Regions from separate parts of the Homo sapiens genome. Here region 1 is linked to region 2. A link means that fine-mapping ties the variant in region 2 to the expression of a gene that starts in the linked region. Tissue or cell type: cerebellum. Region 2 holds a variant in brackets; the other region holds the start of a gene. All regions are shown on one strand. Distances are between the middles of the regions.

Evidence for each region. PIP is the estimated chance that this variant, and not a neighbour inherited with it, causes the effect.
Region 1: it holds the start of ZYG11A, and the variant in region 2 is fine-mapped to the expression of ZYG11A in cerebellum (GTEx, PIP above 0.99).

Annotation. Positions count from the first base shown.
Region 1 is chr1:52,838,194-52,846,344 of GRCh38, reverse strand. It overlaps ZYG11A (zyg-11 family member A, cell cycle regulator), which reads right to left and starts at 3,585. Exons shown (of 14, transcript NM_001004339.3): 1 at 3,372-3,585. The coding sequence starts at 3,461. RefSeq lists an enhancer at 2,411-3,004 and a silencer at 3,506-3,835.
Region 2 is chr1:53,582,262-53,590,439 of GRCh38, reverse strand. All of the region lies in intron 4 of GLIS1 (GLIS family zinc finger 1), which reads left to right. Among named protein-coding and RNA genes, the nearest start is that of DMRTB1, 130 kb to the right of the region's middle. RefSeq lists a silencer at 4,998-5,198. The variant G/A (reference allele first, on the strand shown) is at 3,913.

The DNA of each region.
Region 1 (8,151 bases), 740 kb after region 2:
TATATATATATATATATATATATATATATATATAAAAATTTAAAAAGCCATGATTTCCAAAAGAACTAAAAACTAGCTTAGTTGAGAACAGCAGCACTGTTTTACATTTTTGCAAATTTCATTAACAGGCAGGCTAATGGAAGAGATGGGATTCTGGAGGTCCTGGGGTCCACACTTTGAAAACAGCTACCTTTGAGTGACTATTAAAGAGTAAGAAGGAGAAAGGGAGAGAAAGAGAGAACTACTAAGTCAAAAGAGAACATGGTATTTTCTAAATAATTCAAAAGAAAAGGAAAAAACAAGACAAATGGAACATATATAGCAACACAGTAGACTTAACCCCAACAATACTGATAATTATATTTATTCTAATTAAAAAGCACAGAAAGGCCGGGCACAGTGGCTCACATCTGGAATCCCAGAACTTTGGGAGGCTGAGGCCAGAAGTCTGAGACTAGCCTGGGCAACAAAGCAAGACTCAGCCTCTACAAAAAATAAAAAACAGCCAGGCATGGTGGTGCACACCTATAGTCTAGCTACTAGGGAGGCTGAGGAGGGAGGATGAGCTATGATCACAGACTGCACTCAAACCTGGGCAACAGAGTGAGACTCTCTCCTCCCTGCAAAAATCAATTTAAAAAATACATTTTTAATTAAAAAAATTAAAATGTTTACTTTCCTGTCCTCTGTAAAAAAAAAAAAAAAAAAATTCAAAAATAAAGGCTGGGTGCAGTGGTTCACGCCTGTAATCCCAGCACTTTGGGTGGTCAAGATGGGCAGGTCGCTTGAGGCCAGGAGTTCAGGACCAGCCTGGGCAACATGGTGAAACCCCGCCTCTACAAAAATACCTGTCTCTACAAAAATACAAAAATTAGCCAGGAAATGGTGGCACACACTTGTAGTCCCAGCTACTCAGGAGGCTGAGGCGAGAGAATCGCTTGAACCCGGGAGGCGGAGGTTGCAGTGAGTCAAGATTGTACCACTGTACTCCAGCCTGAGTGACAGAGCAAGGCTCCGTCTCAAAAAAAAAAAAAAAAGCACAGACCATTAGGCTACATACAAATGCAAGATTGCTGTTTACAAGAGACACAATTTAAAACATACAGTTGTTAAACACTAGACACAAGGAAACTGGAGTGACTACACTGTCAGAAAAAATGAGGCTTCTGGACAAGAATATTGCTAGAGATCAAGATGGACATTTCTTAATGATAAAAGGGCCAATTCATCAAGCAGAATTAACATTCCTAAATGCATACGAACTTACTAATAGCTTCAAAATTCATGAAGCAAAAAATTGAAAAGATATGGGAGGCCAAGGCAAGAGGATTGCTTGAGCCGGAGTTCAAAGACCAGCCTGGACAATAGGGAAACCACCGTCTTAATTAAAAATAAAAAATTAAAAGGATAAAAAGAAAATAATATGACTGTGTAGAAAATCTTTAAAAATTTACAAAAAAATAAAGAAAACTAAGTGACTTTGGCCAGGCTGTAGGATACAAGATCAATATACAAAAATCAATTTTATGTATTCTTATATATACACAAGGTAATATAAAGTTTTAAAAAATATTTGCTGGCCGGGCACGGTGGCTCATGCCTGTAATCCCAGCACTTTGGGAGACTCCGTCTCAAAAAAAAAAAGTATTTACAATAGTATCAAGAACAGGAACAAATTTAACAAAATGTGAAAAGACTTTTATATTAAAAACTACAAAACATTGCTAAGAGAAGATTAAAATGACATAAATGGAAATAATTGTATGTATGTTTCATAGGGAAAAAAGTATTCATGCAATATTTGTGTAATTAAAATAATTAATTAAAAATAAATAAAATCCTTAACAAAGAAAATGAGATATACCCAGAACTAGACAGAGAAAATGGGTGTGAGTACTTTTGTAAAGAAATCTTGTTTCGATTCCAAGCAGGAAAAAATGTGCTTGAGACGATGCTAGCACACACGTAAAAAATCCAAGTTTTCCATTAATTACAAATCCACAAATTATATAACTTTTCTAAATGAGTTCAAAAGATTACAGGCTAGATCACTGCAGGGCACAAAGTCTTCCAACAAGGCGTTAATATGTAAAGCACAACCTTAATCAGAACATTTCCTTCTCTCCATAAATTTTGGGTCGAGCCTTCACCACTCAATCCCTCGAGTTCCCCAAGGGTGGCCCTTGGCGGGTTTTTTCCAAAGTGGGGCCAGAGGTCTGAACACCTGAGGTGAAATTCAAGTTCACGAGCAAGTCAACTAAATTTCAGAGCTCCCAACTTCCCTACATCGGTAAAATGGAGCCTAGCAAAGCCTACAAAAGACTAGGGGTTACCAGACTGCTTTAGAAAGGCGACACTTGGCCGGGCACGGTGGCTGACGCCTGTAATCCCAGCACTCTGGGAGGCCGAGGCGGGTAGATCACGAGGTCTGGAGTTCGAAACCATCCTGGCCAACATGGTGAAACCCCGTCTCTACTAAAAATACAAAAAATGAGTCGGGCATGGTGGCACGCGCCTGTAGTCCCACCTACTCGGGAGGCTGAGGCAGAAGAATCGCTTGAACCCCGGAGGCGGAGGTTGCAGTGGGCCCAGATCGCGCCACTGCACTCCAGCCTGGTGACAGAGCGAGACTCCGTCTCAAAAAAAAAAAAAAAAAGAAAGAAAGAAAAGAAAGGCGACACTTAACACACAGCAGGCGCTAAACACACATTCTTTGGGTTTGCATTTTGTCCAGAGCTAAGAGTAACAGGCATTCGGCAAAGGCTGGGGACGGGACGGGGACGGGGGCGGACGCGCGGAACTGAAAGAATCTCAGACTTCGGGTTCCAGTTCCCCCAGCCGGACTAAGCTACTCGCCCGGCCCCGGGCCCAAAGGCCTCAGGTGGTAACGGCCAAAGGGTCACCGCCTCCGCGGGGCGCTGCGTCCACAACACGGGTGGGGAAACGGTCAAGGTTTGCGGCGTTTGGGTTCATGACTGCAAAAACACCGTCCACTACGGGCCAAGCCGAGTGCCATGCCCTGCACCTACGTCTAAGCTCACAGCAGCCCGCACTGGGGCGAGGAATCCTGAGGAGGCTCGCCCCGGTCTCTGGGACTGGGCTCTCGCCGCGCTGCCTCAGGGCGCAAGTTCCACGCGCTTCGCCGGGCGCAGAAAAGCACCCCCCGCTCCGCGGCGCCCAGGCCGCCTCCCCCGACAACGCACCTCCGCAGCGACGCCTGCGCCTGGAAGGGGCTCGGCATCTAGACCGCAGCCCCGCGCGGGCCACACTCCCCAGCAAGTGCCTCGGCAGCGTCCCAGGAGACTCGCCGCGCTCGCCGGAGCTGGACGTGGCGCCGAGGTCCGCGTCGCCGCCCGCACCCCGGTGCTCACCTGTACCACGCAGCAGCCCAGGGCATCCTTCTGAGCGTCAGGAGGGACGATGTTCCGGGGCGTGTGGCCCGGGTGCAAGAAATGAACCATGGCAACCCCGGCGGCGGGGCGTCAAAAAGAGAGCCGGCGTCGAGCCGGAGCCCGGATCCCGCGAGAACCAAGCGGGCGGCTGCCAGGACGCGCCCACCACGCCTGCGAGGCACACGGAGCTAGCGCCGCGCCCTGCCGGCGAGCTTTTGAAATGCCCGGCGAGGCGACGCGCACGCGGGGGCCGGCCCGCCGCAGACCCCACCCCCCGGGCGGCCTCCTAGCCCCATCCGCCCTCCGACACGCCGCTGCCGGGGCCAACCGTTCTCCTCCCGCCTCCCCAGCCTCCCCAGCCTCCCCAGACCAACCTGCCACGACCCAGCCGCTCACCCACTCCTTCCCAGCCCTGCACCTCAGGGCTTGAGAGGATATTCCCCGAGGACCGGCTGTGTAGGTTTGGGGAATACTGTATATATATATACATGTACACACACACACACACACACACACACACACACACACACACATATTCATTATTTCTATATATGTATATATTTTTTAAAGCTTTCATACATTAAAATATATATTTCAAAGACTTTGCCCCTGAAAATCTGGCAACAGCACCTCTCTAACGGTCCTCTCTGTTTCAACTCCTTAGAGTATCTGGATAAATCAAATATAAAACGAATACAAAATATTGGCAAGTATCTACCAAAAAATCTATTTAGCTTTCTTGTTACTTAAAAAGTACTCGAGAAGACCCTTATAACCTGCTCCAAGAAAGAAACCCCGAGAGACCCTTCTAACTTTCTCCAGGAAAGAAACTCCACAAGTTAGTACACATTAGCTAATTTAAGAGAAAGCAATACCTTGGAAAAGGAAAGTTCTCAAGAGCATGAGCCTTGGAGTTTGAATCCTGAATTAGAATGCCCGCTCAGCCATCTAGTGTTTGAGAACCTGGAGCAAGATTCTTGATGTCTCTGAAGCTCAACTTCCTCATCAGTAAAATAGAATGAGAATGCTTTATCTCACAGACTTAATGTAAGGATTAAATAATGTATGTAAAACACATCACAATGCTTTTTACATAGTAAGTCCTTGATAAGTGGATTGGATTCAGATGTTAAAATTATTTTTAAGTACTTTGCCTAATGCTTTTCTTTCATTTATTTATTCTTTTATTTAATCCACTTACTACAAGAAGAAAAAAAATCCTGTGCTGTAGGTATCATCCCCATTTTTCTCACAGGGAAACTGAAGAACTGACAGGTTGAATAGACAACACGTTTTTTGGCCAGCTGATGAGTGGCCAACCTGGGAGTCAAAATTGAGTTTTCTTACTGCAAGTCCAATCAATATGCTTTTTTTTTTTTTTTTTTTTTAGACGGAGTCTCGCTCTGTTGCCCAGGCTGGAGTGCAGTGACGCGATCTCAGCTCACAGCAACCTCCGCCTCCTGGGTTCAAGTGATTCTCCTGCCTCAGCCTCCCAAGCAGCTGGGACTCCAGGCGCGCGCCACCACACCCGGCTAATTTTTGTATTTTTAGTAGAGACAGCGTTTCACCATGTTGGCCAGGATGGTCTAGATCTCCTGACCTGGTGATCCGCACGCCTCGGCGTCTCAAAATGTTGGGATTACAGGCGTGAGCCACCGTGCCCCCGCCAATATGCTTTTGTTAACGGTGGAGGGTGTTCATGTTCTTGGTGTCTTGAACAAAGAATTGGACAAAACGCACAAACAAGGAAGGAATGAAGGGATTTATTGAAAATGAAAGTACACTCCACAATGCCACAATGTGGGAGTGGGCCCGAGCACTGGGGCTCAAAGACCCCGTTACAGAATTTTTGGGAGTTTAAATACCCTCTACTTGGGGTATGCCCTATGTAAATGACGAGGATGAAGGAAAGTTACAGTCATTTCCTCGGCTTTTGCCCAATGGAGAGGATATTTCCTATTACAGCTGAAGTGTGAATTTCAGCAATTTTAACTTTAATATAGAACCTGGTAAGTTATGTTCTCATAAGGTTTGACTATTTCCAGCATATCTAGAGGTGTGGCCAACTGCATATGTCCCAGGCCTTACCGAGCTAGAAAACAGGCAAGTTAAACAATTTTCAAAAGCCAAGGAAGCAGTTTATGACCTTAAAGCATTTAGCAAACCTAATATTTGAACATAATTTTGACCACATGTTTACATTTTGAAGACATTTGTATTTTATCAATAATCTTTAAACCCATCTTTATTTCCCAAAGATTACCCAAGTCACATGAACTAAATAAAAGGCATTATGTTTTTCACTTTTCTGACAAAATATTTTATTTAAGCTCTTATTATTAAACCAATTAATTTAAAACGTAACACATGAGGCCAGGCACGGTGGCTCATGCCTGTAATCCCAGCACTATGGGAGGCCGAGATGGGTGGATCGCCTGAAGTCAGGAGTTCAAGACCAGCCTGGCCAACATAGTGAAACCCAATCTCTACTAAAAATACACAAAAAAATTACCTGGGCATGGTGGCGCATCCCTGTAATCCCAGCTACTTGGGAGGCTGAGCCAGATTTGCTTGAACCCAGGAGGCAGAGGTTGCAGTAAATTTAGATTGCGCCATTGCACTCCAGCCCCGGTGACAAAGCGAGACTTTGTTGCAAAAAGTAAAAATAAGTAAATAAAAGTGGCTGGGTGCAGTGGCTCACACCGTAATCCCAACATTTTGGGAGGCCAAGGCAAGTGAATCACCTGAAGTCGGGGTTTGAGACCAGCCTGACCAACATGGAGAAACCCCGTTTCTACTAAAAACACAAAAATTAGCTGGGCATGGTGGTGTGCGCCTGTAGTCCCAGCTGCTCGGGAGGCTGAGGCAGGAGAATTCCTTGAACGCAGGAGGCGGAAGTTGCAGTGAGCCGAGATGACGCCACTGCACTCCAGCCTGGCGACAGAGTGAGACTCTCTTTCTTAAAAAATAAATAAAAATAAAAAAATAGGGCCGGGCGCGGTGGCTCACGCCTGTAATCCCAGCACTTTGGGAGGCCGAGGCGGGCGGATCACGAGGTCAGGAGATCGAGACCATCCCGGCTAAAACGGTGAAACCCCGTCTCTACTAAAAATACAAAAAATTAGCCGGGCGTAGTGGCGGGCGCCTGTAGTCCCAGCTACTTGGGAGGCTGAGGCAGGAGAATGGCGTGAACCCGGGAGGCGGAGCTTGCAGTGAGCCGAGATCCCGCCACTGCACTCCAGCCTGGGCGACAGAGTGAGACTCCGTCTCAAAAAAAAAAAAAAAAAAAAAAATAGGCTTTGCCGTTTCTGTCATGGGCACAAAGCGGTGGCCTGATTGTCAGTCTTCTCCTGGCATTTTTAAGGCCAGGAGCCAAGTGCTGCTTGTGGGCAAATAACCTACAGAGCGGTTTTGCTTTTAAAATTATTGTTATTGGCCAGGCGTGGTGGCTCACTCCTGTAATCCCGGCACTGTGGGAGGCCGAGGTGGATGGATCACTTGAGGTCAGGAGTTCGAGACCAGCCTGACCAACATGATGAAACTCTCTCTCTACTAAAAATACAAAAATTAGCCAAGCGGGGTGGCAGGCGCCTGTAATCCCAGCTACTTGGGAGGCTAAAGCAAGAGAATAACTTGAACCTGGGAGGTGGAGATTGCAGTGAGCCGAGATTGTGCCATTGCACTCCAGCTTGGGTGACAAAAAGGAAACTGTGTCTCAAAAAAAATAAATAAATAAAATCGGCTGGGCGCAGTGGCTCATGCCTGTAATCCCTGCACTTCGGGAGGCTGAGGTGGGTGGATCACCTGAGGTCAGGAGTTCAAAACCAGCCTGGCCAACATGATGAAACTCCATCTCTAGTAAAAATACAAAATTAGCCGGGCTTGGTGGCAGATGCCCGTAATCCCAGCTACTCGGGAGGCTGAGGCGGGAGAATCGTTTAAACATGGGAGGCAGAGGTTGCAGTGAGCCCAGATTGCGCCATTGCATTCCAGCCTAGGCAACAGAGCAAGACTCCATCTCAGACAAAAATAAAAAATAAATAACAATAAATTTAAAAAATGAAATTATCATTGTTATTATTTGGAGCACAGAACAGTCGATCTGGGCACCCTGTCCTGTGTCTTTTGATACTCTGTGTTTAAGAAAAAAAAATCAATTATGTGTTTTATTTCATGAATCAGTTTTGGAGGGCTTCTGGCTATCCTTTTTTCCTCATATTCTACTGAGATTATTTTTTATTTTTTTATTTTTTTTTTGAGATGGGGTCTCACTCTGTCACCCAGGCTGGAGTGCAGTGGTGCAATCTCGGCTCACTGCAAGCTCTGCCTCCCAGGTTCATGCTGTTCTCCTGCCTCAGCCTCCCAAGTAGCTGGGACTACAGGCGCCCACCACCACGCCTGGCTAACTTCTTGTATTTTTAGTAGAGACGGGGTTTCACCGTGTTAGCCAGGATGGTCTCGATCTCCTGACCTTGTGATCCGCCCGCCTCGGCCTCCCAAAGTGCTGGGATTACAGCTTGAGCCACTGCGCCCGGCCCTTCTACTGAGATTATACAAAGCAGCAAGTTGCCAGGCGCAGTGGCTCACGCCTGTAATCCCAGTCCTTAGGGCGACAGAGACAGGGGAATAGCTTGAACCCAGGAGTACGAGACCTGCCTGGGCAATATGGCGAGACCCCATTCCCACAAAAAGGAGGAAAAAAAGGACAAAAAACAAAAACAAAGCTGCATGTTTTCCACAGAGTAGGAAATCCAATGGC
Region 2 (8,178 bases):
TTGGGTTTTATAAAACAACAATAGGCATGAGAAGAGTCCCTTACTTTGGTGAAGAGTTTTACCAAAGCTGTGAGCACGGTCCGGAAGGCATGTGCAGAGGTGAAAAGCCCAGGTCTGGAGTCCCACAGACCTGGGACCCAGCCTGGTTTAGTCACTTGGCAGCTGTGTGACCTCGTGCTGGTGACTTACCCTTTCTGAACTACAGCATACTCGATTGTAAAATGGAGTAATAATAGTACTTGCCTTTTAGGGTTGTTGTGATTAGGGATAAAAGAGATGATGTAAGGGAGGGTGCTTGCTTCCCCATCACACTCCAGCATTGATCTCAGGTGATGTGTACAGTAGCCCTGGGGCTTAGGGCAGGGTTATTTACAGCTGATTTACAGATGAAGAAACTGTGGCTCAAAAGAGCCAGTCAATGGGTGGCAGAGCCTGGACTTGAGACTGTAGCAGCCTCTGCTGTCAGTAGGGTGGGAAGGGCAGTATGTGGGTGGTTGCTTTGGGCAGGGCAGGCACTCTGTCCTTGCCATTCGATATCTACCAGGGATCCCTGATTCTTTGCATCTTGTTCATTGACAGTCATTTGCAGATCACCTTCTCTGAGTCAGACAGTGTCTGCTCAGGGGGCATGGAGCTAGGCTGGGGCAGCTGGACCTGTGGCATAGGAGGCCCATGCGTGTCCTCCCAGTCCTCATGAGCTGCTGGAGTCTCGGGCCGGGTTTTCATCCTGCCCAGCTTCCTCTGGCCACTGCAGCTGCACTGGCCACTGGTCTCCATTCCTTACGCCCCTCTCCACTGTTTGCCAGTCTGTCCCAGGTGCCTCTGAATCTAGGGCCAGAGAAATCAATCTGGTTGAAAGCTGAGTATTACGGATTGGCCTTAACTAGCCAAGGAACTCAGAACACAAGCCACCTGGCTGGACCTGCCGGGAGGGCCTTGCCCTCCTAGCCTGGGCCAAACTCACGGTCATTCCCCATAATCCTGGGGCTTCTGGCTTTCCCTTTTGCCTTGCCCCAAACCTTTACCCCCCTCCGCCAGCCCCTGAGAAACAAAATCCTGGGTGCTGGGAGGGGCGGGGGAGCTAAAGGGAGTTGCTCCTTACTGAGATTCAGAGATGGTTTTATCCTGGCTCAATGCAAGCCATTCCCTATCTGTTGTTTTGACCTCCTAGCTGGGCATGGTGGTACATGCCTGTAGCCCCAGCTACGTGGGAGGCTGAGGCAGGAGGATCACTTGGGCCAGGGAGTTTGAGGCTATAGTGAGCTATGATCACACCACTGCACTCCAGCCTGGGTGACAGAGCATGACCCTGTCTCAAAAACAAAAACCTCCGAGGCCCAGAGAGGCCAAATCACTTCTCAAGATCACACAGTCTGCCAAGTGGCAGGAGGTAGATACCAACCATATCTGCTGACCTGCCCAACCAGTGTTAACTGGAGAGAGATTTGATTGGGGTTCTGGGCTCATATCCCATGGGATATCCTGAGGGAGAAGAGAATTAATATATTCTGAAACTTACCATGGCCAGCCATGAATTACCATGCCCATTTTACAGAAGAAGAAACTGTATGTTTCTGAAGTTCGCAGGCAAAATGGCTTGCTCTGTATGACCTGCCTCAGCTGCCTGGCCCATTCTAATGGGACACACCGCCTTCTACTCATCTACTTTTGCCCAACCTCTTCCTTCAGAAGAACAGTCACCTCTGTGCTTTTCAAATCACAGTGGGTGGAGTCCCTGTGCATCTGCTGCCTTCTGCCCCCTGCCCAACATCTTGAGACCAGCCCTGTGGGCTTGAGCATTTTAAGGCCAGCACACACCCCTCACCCATTGCAACATCTGAAGCTCATCCCAGGGAATTACCCAGGATCCTGAAATGGATGAGTGGCAGGTCGGCCAGTTCATCCCATCACATACAGACAGAGAACAGGGAAGACAGACCCAGAGAGGGTGGTCAGGGGCCCAGGACTGCACAACAAGTATGCATCAGTGGGCAGGGAAAGTTCCCTGAAGGGGCTGATAATCGAAAGTTGGGGAAGGTTTAGGCTGTGGGAAAGTGACCCTCCAATTAGGAAAGAATTATTCCCCTGAAACACTTGCCTTGCTTTGGTGTGCCAGGCCTCGTGCTAGGAGCTGGGGGTGCAGAGATGAAGATGTTGTGATGTGAGACTTCTGGCACTGTGGGAAGAACACTGCTTTTGAATCTTGTGATATTATTGCTGGATGATGGAGACAGGGAGGGGAGCCAGGAGCTGAGGTTTTGCAGCCTGGCTTTATAAGCTTGGCCAGGTTGATCAAGTGGGACAAGATCATTATTGAGACGCTTGTTGGGCGATTTTCAGTTTATGTAGTGCTTCCACGTGCATGATCTCAGCCCTCAAAATATTCATGGAGACTGGAATTATGATCCCCATTTTATAGATGGGGAAAGGACAGTCCAGTTCTGGCCCAAGTTCAGGTCCCAAATGCATGGTGGGGTCGGATTTAAACCCAGGTCTCAGTCTGACTCCAGAGACTGTGTACTAGCCATGACCCCAAGCCACCTCCCAGGCACAGAATCATCAGTCTGTTTACAAACATTGAGAGAATATCCAGATCTGAAACTCATTCAGCAAGCTGTCACTAAGCACCTGCTGTGTGCCCCCTGGCTGGGTCCTGGGGTCACAGAAGGGAATCAAATCCTGCCTGGTCTCAAGGAGCCCTCAGTCGAGTGGGGAAGTAAATGGATATTGCATGTAACTATTTTTCTCAAGAAGCCAGCACCCAGTCACCTTGAGAGCCTGTTGCCTGCTGACTTGATGGGTTCTTTGTTCTGTCTTGGAGTAGAGAACACCTCATGGGTTGAAAAGTAAAACATTTCACTCTCATTAGAATAGTCGCCTGGAAACAAGCTCCCTTCCTGGAGGCTGGGGTTTCTGGTCAAATCAAAAAGCTGCCCTGGAGAATCCTGCTGTAAATGAGGCCAGAGAGGCCAAGTGGTCCCACCCACTCAAGCCACCAAGTCTATCCTCAACTTGCCTCAACTCAATCTAGGATTGGATGGATCTGGGAAGGAGACCTGTTTTGGGCAAAGTCAGCTTGCAAGTTGGCATCCAGAAGTGTCCTCGTTAATGATCCTTCCTGGGATCATGTCACTTCTCATGTCTACCCTCATTATTAGGTGGGGAAGCTGAAGCCCAGAGAGCAGGCACCATGGCCTCATGTCATCCGGTACATTAACAGCAACCCAGGGATGCCTGCTTTATTTCTTCCTGCCCTGAAGCTTCCTCTCCTCCTGAATTCCTAGAGAGTCTGCATTCTCCAGGTCCTTTAAATCCTTTGGGTCTTGGCTTTTGCTGATTCCTTTGTCTAGAATGCCTTTCCTAGCCTGGCAAACTCCTATACATCCTTCACAACTCAGTTCAGTGCTCCCTCCTTAGCTCCCCCTTTCTCTGTGCCTCCTGTTCTCCCAGCATGTGTTGCGCTGTGTGTAACAGTGGTTCCTAACATGGCCAAGTGTCTGGGGGACCACATGCCCTTCAGTGCCTGGCCTGGCCTTCATTGTGGAGGAGCTGAGTCCCCTCCCTAGGACAGAGGCTCTGCCCTGTGATTATCTGTTCTCTCTGTTCCAAGGCTGTGTGAGGTTGCCCGGACCCTGTCTTCCTGAGTAGTTTCCCATGAAGTCACAACATTGGTGGGACTTTAAAGACTGTCACGTCTACCCCCTAATCTGGTGCTTGAAGTTTTTCTGCAAGAAAGCCTGAATTTGAAACCTAGCTTTGCCACCCCTCAGCCTGTGATTGTGTACAAGTATAGCTTGACTTCTATAAGCCTCGGTTTTCTTACCTATGAAATTGGGGTAATAGGACTGTTGTGAGGCTTTGATGAGAAACTAGACAATGGCACACAGTAAGTATATCAGAATGGTCCTGGCC[G/A]TTCTGGACAGTTTGCATTTGCGAAAGAGAAAAGGGAAAGTCTAAAATGGATAGTGGCTGTTCAGTCACGAATGTCCCCAAAGAAACAGAAAAGGCTGTTGGAAGTCCCAGCTCTGCCATGGGCTGGCTCTGTGACCTTGGATGCGTCGCTTGGCTGTGCTGAGCCTCAGTTTCCTGCACTGTGAAATGGGATAGTGCCTAGCAGTCAGAGTCTGCAGTAGACAGTGTTTAGTAGGGGCTCAACAGATGCCAATGTCCTTTCTTCTCTTGAGCCCGAGGTTTAGCTCCACAGATCTTGGCTTACATTGGGATGCTTTTCTTCCTCCCCTGTTTTGGAAAAGCAAACCCAGGGGGCTTGGGCTTAACAAGGAGAGGCTTCCTGGAAGCCAGTGTCCTTCCAGTTCTCTGGCCTTGCAATTAGGTCAGAGCCTCGTCCCCCACCAGCCACTGTGCAGAGGGGAGACTGAGTCCCCAGATGGAAATAACTTGCCTGGGGAAGGACAAGAGGGACTGGAGATAGATGGAGTTGGAGACTCATCCCAGCTCTGCTGCTCACTAGCCATGCAGCCTTGGACAAGACACTTCACTCCCAAGTCTGTTTTTGCATCTGTAAAATGGGAGCTGTGATGCTCACCCCAGAAGTTTCTGTAGGGGGTGGAGGGGCTGTGCTCTGTACCTGCAGAGTGCTCTGCAGAGGGGCACTGTTGCCCTAGTCAGGGCTGCTGGGCTGAAGCTGAGTCTCTGACTCCCATTCCAGTACTCCTGCCTGCAGCCAGGCCTCTGAGTACAGACAGGGCACTTTCACAGGTGTGTTCCTCCCGGTTAGATTCCCCATCAGGAATGGAACAGGTTGGCTATGTGCTCCCCAAATGTAGTTCCTGGTCTTGAGGCCTCAGCCTGCAGCTTTGCTGGATGCCCTCCTTCCCTGCTCCACAGCCCACCCCCACCTCACTTCCACCTCCATCCCCACCCTGCCCTGTTTCACCCCCATTCCCCATCCCCCATTTCTACTTATCTCCATCCCTGACCCCCCACCCCTTTCCCTTCTTACTTAAATTCTGAGCCAGGGTGGACCAATGGCTAAACACACAGGACAACCACTAAGGTTCAAATCCCTTACTCTGCCCTTAACCAGCTGTGAGACCTCAAGACAAGTCACGTGGCATCTCTGAGCCTTGGTTTCCTGTCTGCGTGGAGGGGAGAGTGTTGTGAGAACTAGATGAGATCATATATGTGTAGCACTTACCTCGTGCCTGGCGCATATTAGATGCTTGAAAACAGGAGCCCTTGTTCCTTCCCCCACCTCCCCATTTTTTGAAGTCGTTAGTCCCAAGCTCTCACAGGGAAGAGAATTCCCAGGAGCACCAAATTTGAGGGAACAGGAGGGCTGGCCAAGTTTTGTGAGCCCAACATTGCTTTATGGAATATGAAAAAAAATTAAGGATAAAAAACACAACTATTTGAATTGAATTTAAACTAATAAAGGAAAAAGCTTTTGAACTTAATGTAAATGGAATTGAAATGATTGTCTTACTGGAGTGAGAATGTCAGATAAAATCAACAGTGACTTTAAGAAGGTGTCCAGACCATGTTTTCTGAGAGGGCCATCCTGGAAATGGCAAACTTCGTAACTGAGAATTTATAGACTCTGTCTCTGCTGGATAACAGATGGGGTTGCCAGAGCTGGCTTTGTGTGCTCACTTGGATGGCTGCAGCTGCAGACCTCAGCATCCTGTTCTCGTCTGTTAAATGGGGGATGGGCCAGGTAACCCCTAAGGTCTCGGTCACCTTGGACACACCAAGACCGAGATGCTGAGGAGAAGAGGCCCTTCTTTAGAGTCCTTCCTTAACTGTGCCCTTCCCTTGGGAGACAGCCTTGGGCTAATCTGTATTGTCCACCCCCACCTGGCCACCAACCTTTCAACACAGCTTGACACCCCCTTGTGCCAAGTTCAGTGCTAGAAGCAAGGAGTACAGTGTCAAAGGAAGAATGGTCTGGTGGCAAATGAATTAACCAAATGCCTCTGACACAGAGGAGGGAGAAGGATTTCCTCAGGATGTCATGAGAGCTGGGCTCTGACAGGTGGGTGGGCACTTTCCAGGTGTAGACCATGAGAAGACCCATTGCAGGGAAAGGAAACAGCACACGTGAAGGTTTTGACATGTGATAGTCTTGACCTTGTGGGGAACATAGGTGTCCTTTTGGTCTTGAAGTGAATTACCTGCATGGGGGCTGAGGGCAGAAACATCGGAATTGAGCCTCAAAGGGCCTCAAGGTCTAGTGTAAGGAAATTGGACTGTGCCCCGAGGGAGTGGAGAGAGTCTCAGAAGAGTTGTACACAGGACTGTGATATGGGCAGAGGTAACATTTAGTGTTGCTAGTGTGGTGGGTACATGGCAATTGGCAGATGAGGACACTGGGGCTCAGGAAGGGCAGTCCACTCAAATCTGGAGCCCTTCTTCCACAGATCCACCGGCCTCGGACCATGCACCCAGTCTTGCCAACGCCTGGGCACCCGTGGGCCAGGCCAGGTCAGCCTAGTGTGTCGTGCTGGGGCACAGTGTCTGCACATGTTTGGGTAATGGAGCTGGGTCCTCCTTCGGAAACTGCCTCCAGCACATTTGCCAGTGGGAAATGGGAAAAGCATATCCCATAATGTGGTTCCGTAAAGTTTGCACAACTGTTCTTTGTTTTCCACCCGTCCCCACAATAAATCTTCTTCCACTGCCAGGACTGGGGCCTCCGTGGTCTGTAAGTGATTAAGGCACCGACTTTCCCGGCCCCTCCTCCTCGCAATACATTCTTGTGACGTGGGTAATGATAAAATGAGAATCTGTCACTGAGATTCTGTTGCCTTGCAAGTAGCAATTTCCAAATGGCTGGGAGGTGGCCTCCTGTTAGAAGGCAGCCTGCTCTTGCCCTCTCTGTATAGCCACTTCCCTTGATAGGTCCTGCCATGTTGGGACATAAGCTCAGACAGCAGATGGACAATGTGGTACTGGGCGGTACGTTTCCTGGGGATGGGGCAATGGGACTGGAGGTCTCTGCAGGACTCTGCATTCTGGGGGGCAAGACTGGGACATCTGCTGGGCACAGAGCACCCAGTGAGTGTCTGTTCAACTGATGAACCATCTAGCAGCCCCTTTGTTTTATCAGATCCCCAAGCCATAGTGTTTTCAAGCCAAAAGTAACATTTGTATCTTCCTGGGGAACAGTCAGGCCCTGGGCAGGGCCCTGGGCTGCAGAGTTTTGATGGCTAGATCCTGTGCTCAGGGAAGGCACAGGGCGGTGGCTGGATTGCTGTTTCACAGTGGGGTCACTGAAATGCACAGAGTGGAAGCTACTTGGCCAGTGTTACATCTGCGCCTCCAGCTCAGGTCCTGGCTCTGCCCCATGATCTTCCCGCTGTCCCTAGTTGCCTACCACATTTAAATGTGAGTGTATTCTTCCCAGCATCTGCTGAACCCCAAGTTTTGGGAGGCAGTTTGGCTTACGGGGTCATTTCTGATCAGGCTGAGTTGCCAGTGAACATGACAGTGATTGGAGCTTAAGAGAGTCTGGCCACAGGCAGAAAAAATGAGTGCTTCAGATACTTCCGTAAGATCCCCAGTACCCCTTCTACCTGCTCCCCTCCCTCCTTCCCACAGGAGTCCAGGACAACAGAAGGTGCCTCAGCTAGGCCACAAGGCCGACTGCCTGGATCTTCACATTTGCTGTTTGCAGATGTGGAAACTGAGGCCCATAGAGAGGATGTGGCTCACTGGAAATTGCAGAGCGAAAGAGGCAAGCTCAGCATCCCTCACTCCCAGCCAGTGTCCTGCCTGCTAGACACCACAGTCTGCTGAGTACCACCTGTGTGCTAGTACCACCTGCGGTGAGCACTTACATGTGTTGCCTTCCAGATTCTGAAGAACACTGGCTCTTGTCATGTGCACTGGGAGGAAATTTCCCAGGTTCAGCAGCTCCTCTGATGCCCCTCCCAACCCCTGCCACACCCTTTGACAGATGGGGCCTTGAGACCCAGGGCGGAGAGGTGACCTGCTGGAGGTCACACAGCAGGAGACGGTTGGCGGTGCATGTAGACCACACGTGTCAAAATCACCTTCCCTCCTAGCAGGGTCTGATTCACAAAGAGCTGCTGGGCAGGCTCCAGGGAGACTTTAACCAGTTTCAAATGTCACACCTTCTTAGTGCATTGGGAAGGTGTGATGACTGATTGCTGTGGGTGTTAGGGTCAGAGGAAGCCTGGCTTGTGCAAAGACCCA